3 separate regions of the Homo sapiens genome follow, and all the other regions are linked to region 2. Evidence: fine-mapped expression QTL. A gene starts in region 2. Each other region holds a variant in brackets. All regions are shown on one strand. Distances are between the middles of the regions.

Region 1 (2,763 bases), 93 kb before region 2:
ATTATTAGATACTATGAAACTGCCCTGGAAAAAGAATATATATATATTTTGCAGAATGCCCATTAACCTGGGCAGCACAAAGAAATACTAGTTTGAGAGTAAGCGTTGAGCACCATTAATAAGAACAGGTTTCGACACTGGGCCAAATAACCTCTGAAAAAAGAACCCTTCACTTTTATCCTGTCTGGACTCAGAACTGAGTTCATGGTGGTTTTGACTGAGATTGAGGGGTAGAGTTGCACATAAATTATTCAAAGGGAGAAGGACAACATCTGGCTGGCTCTGGGCAGCAGGTGGATTAGGATGGTTCAAAACCATGCTTCCTTTTTGATCCTTCCAATGCCCACACACTGATGCTTCACCTCCTCCTGAGCTCTCAGCATTTGTTCCTGTGATGACAGTGTCATAGACCAAGTCCCCGCTCCCTGCCCTGGCTCATCTTCCTGTGCTTCTTTTTCCTGTTTGACCTGACTTCTCCAGATTGAACATTTGAAGCATCTTTATTCTCATATGTTCCTATATGCTGCAGAATAAGATAAACCCCCAAGGCAATGTCAGGCAGTCCTTGTTCCAGCATGAAACAGAATACTTTTCTACTTTTCATAAGATATGCTCATGCATAAAAAGTCAGAAATAAGACACTCAGGGAGAAATACAGAGTTTCTTTAAACAGAATAAATTTTTAGATATTTATAAAAAGTTAAGAGCTATTCCCTCTAAAGAACTGCATAGATATATAAATAGCATATGATAGAAAAGTGTCTCTATAATGGTATTTTAGTATACATTAAATGAGAGTTAATATAAGAAATACTGTAATTTAGTGTATGCAGTGACAGAAGACCAAATTTGGAATCAAGAAGCCTGAGTGTGAGCCCCAGTTCTGCTCTTTGCTTCCTGGGTGACCCAAGACAAATCAGCTAATCTTCCTAAACCTTTGTTTACCTATCTATAAATGGGGATAATCATCACTGACCTCCCAACCTCATGGGTCCACATGAGACTCAAATGAAATAAAATATGCCAAAGTACAGTGTCAACTGTAAAATTCCATACAAACATGAGCTGTTGTTGATAGAGGCATTTGGGGAGTCATGTATACCCACAAAGAGGTACCTACTTTTGATGACCACTGTCTACGACTGCTCTTGGGGGACTTGAAGCCTTGGCCAAAAACTTCCTTCTCCATCCATGGGGCTTAGGATTCATTCTGAGGGGTGACTTATGCTTGACCCCTATTGTGTTCCCTCATCCAAACCTGGCTCGCCCTTTTGCCCATGGTGTAGTCACTGGGCTTACTATGAATTGAGGGACTCTCACAACTAGGGCAGGGAATGATCACAATCTCTTTTCACCCTAGGAACTCTTGCATGCATGGCTGCATGAGGAGCATGAAATCTTCCTGGCAATAAAGAGCATATCTCATTCTAAACACATGATTCTCTCCAGA[A/G]CACTTTCATTGATGAAGTACGTGGTTTTTTTTTTTTTTTTTTTTTTGCTCTGTCTCCCAGGCTGGAGTGCAGTGGTGCCATCTTGGCTCACTGCAACCTCCGCCTTCAGGACTCAGGTCACCTCCGTCCCTCAGCCTCCTGAGTAGCTGGGATTACAGGCACCCACCACCATGCCCAGCTAATTTTTGTATTTTTAGTGGAGATGGGGTTTCACCATTTTGGCCAGGCTGGTCTTGAACTCCTGATCTCAAGTGATTCACCCGCCTTGGCCTCCCAAAGTGCTGGGATTACAGGTATGAGCTACCGTGCCTGGCTGAGAGGTAGAAGTTTTAATGTGATCAACTTAACGTATTGATAAAGAGTTAGATTGCTGACACAACAAATATTCTCTTATGCCTTTGCTTTCCTCTCATACATAAGAAAAATGAAGTATGAAAAAATATTGAACCATGATACTAAAATAATCTCCCTGAATTGCCACTGCTCCCACTAGATTACTATTCTGTCACGTGGCAGGTGCTATACACTTGTTAGAGAAAGAGTTATTCCATATATAGGCAAGAAAATAAAGTGTTTTTTGCCAGTCTCTAGAAGACCCTTTCGCCATGTTGGGAATACCATTGACAGGCCGAGGATGATGCCAAATTATGTTTTTCTTGGTCCAACAATTTTGTAGGATGTTGAATAATGGGTATTTAATTTATGGAAAGAGAAGTTTTCTCTTCCATAAAGACTGTGCTTGGAAGGGTAGATAAAGAACCGTTTATCTCTAATCCCTTCATCATAGATACAGGAACAGAAAAATAGAGTTTCTGTGAGTGTAAAACTATTTGCACATAAACCTTTGTTATCATCAAGAAAAACCAAATGGAATCTTTCAAATGGCAAACACAGTAATTGTTGAAAGCAAAAGGTCACACTAGATTAGTTTTATTAAAAAAAAAGAAGTGATAAAAGCTTATTTCTCCCTTTCTAAAACTAATTAAAGAAGCAGATGAAAGAACTTTGCTTTTGTAAACACACTGTTCATTGAAGCGGGCTTCCATTCAATTTTATGCTGGGCTTGCTTAATTATTGTACAAAACACAATAATGAGGTTAGTAAACTTGTATGAACGTGAACATATGCATAAGTTGGGCTGCAGTTAAATTTTTGTTGAAAAAGTCAGAAAAATTTCAATGGAAACATATTATTACTTAGATGGAGATGACCCATGAAAGCCTATATTACAACCAAATAAAGACTATCCTATTGCTTTATGTTTGTTCATATTTGCATTCAGATCATCTTTCAGGAAAAAAAATTCTAAATG
Region 2 (2,763 bases):
ACAGTCTTCTTAAAATTCAAGAGAGGGTCCAGATAGTCTATATTGCCTCCAACGTCAGTTCTTACAATCCTCTCACATTCATGGACCATCTTAACATAGCAATTAAAGTATCTTGATTATTTTGCCTAAGAGAGTTGACAATATTTCATTCTGCCCGAGGGCTCCTTTGAACATAAAACTGTGATAAGGTAAAATACACTGGGCAACTATTCATGCGTGAGCCATTGGAGCCCTCTCCAACTGCCAAATTAGCAAATGGCTCTTTTAAAACATGAAAGATATGAATGGGAAACCGTACTTCGGAGTAAATTCTGCATTGACAATAGTCAGGGAAAGTACTTTCACTGGTGCTTTAATTATCGGGTCAGCACTACGACTGGCCACATCGCTCAGCCTCTGGTTATAATCTATTTCACCTAATAAGATAGATGTCCACCACAAGCCCCAGAAAGAGATAAGGTACGATGGAAAATTGATGGATCACAAGCCCCGCGTGATTGCCAGAAATGAATTCAGACTTTCACAGAAACACCTGCCCCTTGGAAGGACCCCAACATAACACAGATAAAGCAAGGCTGGGAACAAGGAAACAGCTCGGCTCAAACCTTGCCAGCTGCATCACGGTGGGACGAGGATGACCGGATCCCTTTTGTAAGGGCTGAGTCAGATCCCAGCTTTAAAACTTGCTGGGCCGTAACAGTCACACATCACCCACTGTCCCAGCGCCCCTCTCCCTCCTAAGTCATACAGGTGGCCATCAGAAGCAACCCCCTAAAAAGACAAGCCCCATTCTAGTTTCGTCCTCGCCGTGGCCACGTCTCTTCAGTTTCCGAAGCCCCTAAACTCTAGCCCACCTACGTGGTTTTGCCCCCTGGAACAGCAGTCAGGTCTCTTAGGGGAACAAAGAAAGCAGAACCCCTGAGGCGAGGGATTGGGTACTGGATCTGAAAGGGGCTGCAATTTTACCTTTCGGTGCCCAGGAACCAGTGGAGAAGTCAGCGGCGCAAGGACCACACGCGCGCTCCGCGCCTCCCCGCCTCCTCTCAGCAAGTCAGCTGTCGCCCCGCATCTGGCTCGCGCCCTCCACTCGGCTCCGCATCTGCTCACAAAGCGCTCGGGGCGCCGCGGGCGGCGAGGGCCTCCGGGTCACCTGCGGCCGGGCTGAGCCCAGCGCCCCGCCCGCCCGCCGGCCGCACTCCCTCCGCCCCTTCCCACACGCGCGCTGCCCTGCCAGTGACTCAGCCGGGCATCGGCGCGCGCGGCCCGCGGCGGCCCGGGCGCGTTGGGGCCGGAGGCACCGCCAGGCGACCAGACTGAGGCGCTCGCCTGCCCGCCCCAGCACGTGTCTGTCTGCCTCGCGTGCTGTCCGTCCCCTAGTCCGCGGGTTCCGAGGACCGCTGAGGTGGGGACTGGCACCACCCAGAGGGAAATCGGCCCCCGCCCTTCCTGCCGTCCGCGCCGCGCCTGGCCCCGCGGGGGTCGCGTTTCCTCCCGCCTCTGCCCCGCCCACGACAAGGTGAAACTTTCTAGGTGGAGAAGTTTTCTCGCCCTGGCTGCGCGCTCTCCTCCCCCAGCTCAGGCAGTCTGAAGTTAGCACAGCCGGAGATAAGCGGGACCGAGTCTCCCCCTCCTGGCGCTTGGGAGGCGAGTGTCACCCCGGGCTCAGATGCAGGGCGCGCACCCTCCTGGCACCCCGCTCGCTGACCCCGGGAAGGGCGCGAGCTTTGCTCTCGGCCTCTCCCACGTCTCCGCTAACCGCCCCGCGCCCACCCGGGTTTAGAGAGATTTGGGCACCGCAGAAACAAGGAGTTCATTGTTAGAGGCGGAGGTAGAAGTGGATGGACGAATTGTCCCAATGATTTCATTATGCAACGATTATCCTCTACTATAATAACTCAAATTTCTGCAAGGAAGAACAACAGAGGAGTTTAACCCTGAGGAGACTTCCATTTCTTTTTTTCTTTTTTTTTTTTTCCATAGCCGGAAGCAGGCTGATTAAATAACTGGGCAAATAGCGATGAATAAGCACAACAGAACAAAAGTTTAATTCTTGAATGTTGAAATCTTATGATGATTTTTAAAAAAGAGCTTTTGGGGCCTCGGTGAACTCTATTAGGAGTAATTGTGTTGGGATAACTTTGTATTTCGCTATAAAAATTGGCACCTACAAGAGTAAATGAACACTCAAAGGTAATAGGATCTAAGGAACGGGCATTGCCGGTTAGAACTTGAGTTCGTTCCGGCTCTCATACCAACTTGTTCAATCATGGCAATAGATAATGAGACATAGATATCTTCGTTATTGAAAGTCATGGGTTAAAATAACAGTTACTATGCAGGTTCAGTTCTTATTTACTACAGAATGAAACATAGAAAAATGTAGTAAGAATAGTTATCATTTCCCAAGTGCCAGGCACTTGGAAATGATAATGTAACCAGAGGTTACATAAGAGTGATTTCAGTCCTCAAAAGAGATTACCTCTTGATTCCCCAGTTTTATGGAAAAGGAAAGTTCCCATTACGTTACTAAAGTCTTGCATTGAACCATTTTGCAGGTAAAGAAACTGAGTCCCTAAAAGTTCCCAGGAGAGTCACATAGCTGGTTAGTAAGAGGGGCAAAGTTAGAACTTAGCTTTCAGCCCAGTCAGGTGTCCTTCACACCATACCAAGAGGCCTCAGCAGGCTAAATAAACAACGCGGCCTGACTGGAGATTTCCTGATACGGCATGGCATAATTTATCAATGACTATAGCTCATTAAAAA
Region 3 (2,763 bases), 170 kb before region 2:
CTCCAAGTTTTGGCAATTATGAGTAAAGCTGCTATAAGCATCTGTGTGCAGATTTTTGTGTAGGCATGTTTTCAGCTTCTTTGAGTAAATATCAAGGAGTGTGGTTACTGGATCACATGGTAACAATATGTTTAATTTTATAAGAAACTGGCAAACTGTCTTCCAAAGTGGCTGTACCAATTCGCATTCCTACCAGCAATGAGTAAGAGTTCCTGTAGCTCTACATCCTCACCAGTATTTGATGTTGTCAGTGTTCTGGATTCTCGTTGTTTTAACTTGCATTTCTCATATGATATGGAGCACCTTTTCATATGCTTATTTGTCATCTGTATGTCTTCTTTGGTGATGTGTCTTTTAAGGTCTTTGGTTCTTTATTTTTTAAGAGGTGAGGTCTCACTCTGTCGCCCAGGCTAGAGTGCAAGTGGCACAATCATAGTTCACTGGAGCCTTAAACTCCTGGGCTCAAATGATCCTCCTGCCTAAGCCTCCTGAGTAGCTAGGACTACAGGCATGTGCTACCACATTAGACTAATTTTTTATTTTTTGTAGAGATGGGGTCTCGCTATGTTTCCCAGGCTGACCTCAAACTCCAGGTCTCAAGCAGTCCTCCCTCTTAAAGGCTGGGATCACAGGCATGAGCTACTGCATCTGGCCTTTGGCTCGTTTTTTAATTGTTGCGGTATTTGGGTTCTTATTGCTGAGTTTGAGGCTTATTTTTCAAAATACAAGTCTAATAATTCTTCTGTTTTCTGGAACAATTGTATTAAAGTAACTTGTAAGATGATAAGCCTCCTAAATAAATCCAGTGCTCATGGGAGGGAAGGATGATAGCCCAATGAAATATAAGAAATTATATGACACATTTTAGTCAAGTTTAATTTTCTCTTGGCTCTAGCCATTCCTTTCCTACAGCTAGAGGATTCTTGGGTTTCACTTTTTTTTTTTTTTTTTTAAAGATGGAGTCTGTCTCTGTCACCCAGGCTGGAGTGCGGTGGCACGATCTCGGCTCACTGCAAGCTCCGCCTCCTGGGTTCTCGCCATTCTCCTGCCACAGCCTCGCGAGTAGCTGGGACTACAGGCGCCCGCCACCATGCCCGGTTAATTTTTTTGTAATTTTATTAGAGCCGGGTTTCAAAGTGTTAGCCAGGATGGTCTCGATCTCCTGACCTCATGATGTGCCCACCTCAGCCTCCCAAAGTGCTGGGATTACAGGAGTGAGCCACCTCGCCTGGCTGGGTTTCACTTTTACTTCTCCTGCAGAGGTGGTAATGCGTATGAAAGAAAGCAGAAAAAAAATACTTGCATACTTACATAATTTAAGATGCGTAACGCTTGGAATGTTTCAATTTCCTACTTAAGCAAAATACTAAATTCATTTTTGTTAATTTTAGTGAAAAAATAAGAAAGAGTATATTAAGAAGTCAAGAAACCTGTATTGGTGCCAGATCAAACATTGCAAATCAAGGCAGTGGCTCCACTGAGGTGACGT[G/A]TCTTGCAATTTTGATGTTTAATGGGGACTGATCTGGAAACCGAAATAGTGGTTAGCCTGGAATGGCTCAGGATAATTTATTGTAACTCAAATTTGTATTCAAACTAAGTAGGCAACTCTGGCGGATCTGAGATGGGAACAAAAGACTACGTTTCTCCCCTTAGAAGTCACAGAGAGGTTTACATTTCATAAAAATTATCTTGCATTTTGCTGTGCTTGTTGATACATGTAAAATCCAGTTGTGAGGTAAACAGGGGATTTTGAGAGAGCTGAGATTCTATGTAAACAAAACTTATATGCGTATTTTTGACTGCTAATTCAGAATTGTATTTGTGAGTGTCCAGAGCCTACTGGGAGATGAGAACGGTCTTCTGAGGCTTCCTTTGGCTGGGTTGGAGAAGGCTAGGAGCCTGGGGTGTGGCACACTGACGGAGTAGAGGGGAAAGAAGAGTGAATAGAAACAGGAAAAGGCAGAGCTCTTTTCCCCACCCTCTGTGGCTTACAGAAAAGGGAAACTGGACCCACCAAGTGCAACTGCAGGAGAACCAGCATTTCAGTGGTGAGATAAGCCCTCACACTAGCGCAAGCAGAAGTGCCAGCAGCCTGAAAGGGTTTTAACCCTAGGTTGATCAATGTAAATCTTAGAAAGCCACTTCCAAGCCCTGGGAAAGGTGTCTGTACCCAAATCCAAGAGGCAGGAACAGATGTGGTGGAACATTGGAAGCAAGATGATGAGTAACATGAATTGCTAGTCAAGCATCTGAAAAAAAGAGCCCTCAGTTATATTTTAGAGTTTATTTTTAAGAAGGGTTTGCTCTAAAAGTACTGTAGGAGAAATAAACAGGTAACTAGAGGGGACCCTGAGAGTAGCCACAGAAAGTCTTTTTGAGGAGTGCCAGTTGAGCTGAGGCCTGATGGATGAAATGAGCCAGACAAATGATGGGGATAGGAGGCAGAAAGAGGGAAAGAAATGCAAAGGGAAGAAATGGGTCACATTCTGGATTCCACTCTAACAGATCCAAGTCACTTTCCTGAATAGCTTACTGTATAAGTGGAAAGGTGACTAGTTATAGGAGTGTTACATGTTGGAGAAATGGGTAGGATTCAGTTTACATGGACCAAAACATGCAATAAGATCACTTCGGACCTCATTTTTATCATCATTCAATGATGCTTTCTTATGCCTCATTTTGCTTGACTTCTACCAAACACATTTCTGTCAACATGTAAGACATTTTTTCATATGCTGCCCTGCCTGGTCTTGAACTCCTGGG

Alleles and levels. Positions count from the first base shown, and alleles are read on the strand shown. Sizes are in standard deviations (SD) of each study's normalised expression.
For the expression in spinal cord of the gene that starts at base 1,348 in region 2, allele G in region 1 goes with a higher level than allele A (large effect, 0.83 SD a copy in GTEx).
With allele A in place of G in region 3, the expression in unexposed skin of the gene that starts at base 1,348 in region 2 is higher (small effect, 0.24 SD a copy in GTEx).

The links. PIP is the estimated chance that this variant, and not a neighbour inherited with it, causes the effect.
Region 1: its variant is the best candidate, but not a certain one, in a credible set for the expression of MET in spinal cord (GTEx, PIP 0.89).
Region 3: its variant is the best candidate, but not a certain one, in a credible set for the expression of MET in unexposed skin (GTEx, PIP 0.80).

The regions. Positions count from the first base shown.
Region 1 is chr7:116,764,021-116,766,783 of GRCh38, reverse strand. All of the region lies in intron 11 of MET (MET proto-oncogene, receptor tyrosine kinase), which reads right to left. Among named protein-coding and RNA genes, the nearest start is that of COMETT, 77 kb to the right of the region's middle. RefSeq lists a silencer at 2,186-2,674. The variant A/G (reference allele first, on the strand shown) is at 1,451.
Region 2 is chr7:116,670,781-116,673,543 of GRCh38, reverse strand. It overlaps MET (MET proto-oncogene, receptor tyrosine kinase), which reads right to left and starts at 1,348. Exons shown (of 21, transcript NM_000245.4): 1 at 967-1,348. The region is part of intron 1 of COMETT (cytosolic oncogenic antisense to MET transcript); the gene reads left to right. RefSeq lists silencers at 1,181-1,370, 1,431-1,560, 1,691-1,740.
Region 3 is chr7:116,842,784-116,845,546 of GRCh38, reverse strand. It overlaps LOC124901731 (a long non-coding RNA gene), which reads right to left. Exons shown (of 3, transcript XR_007060489.1): 3 at 1-2,763. Among named protein-coding and RNA genes, the nearest start is that of CAPZA2, 18 kb to the left of the region's middle. The variant G/A (reference allele first, on the strand shown) is at 1,490.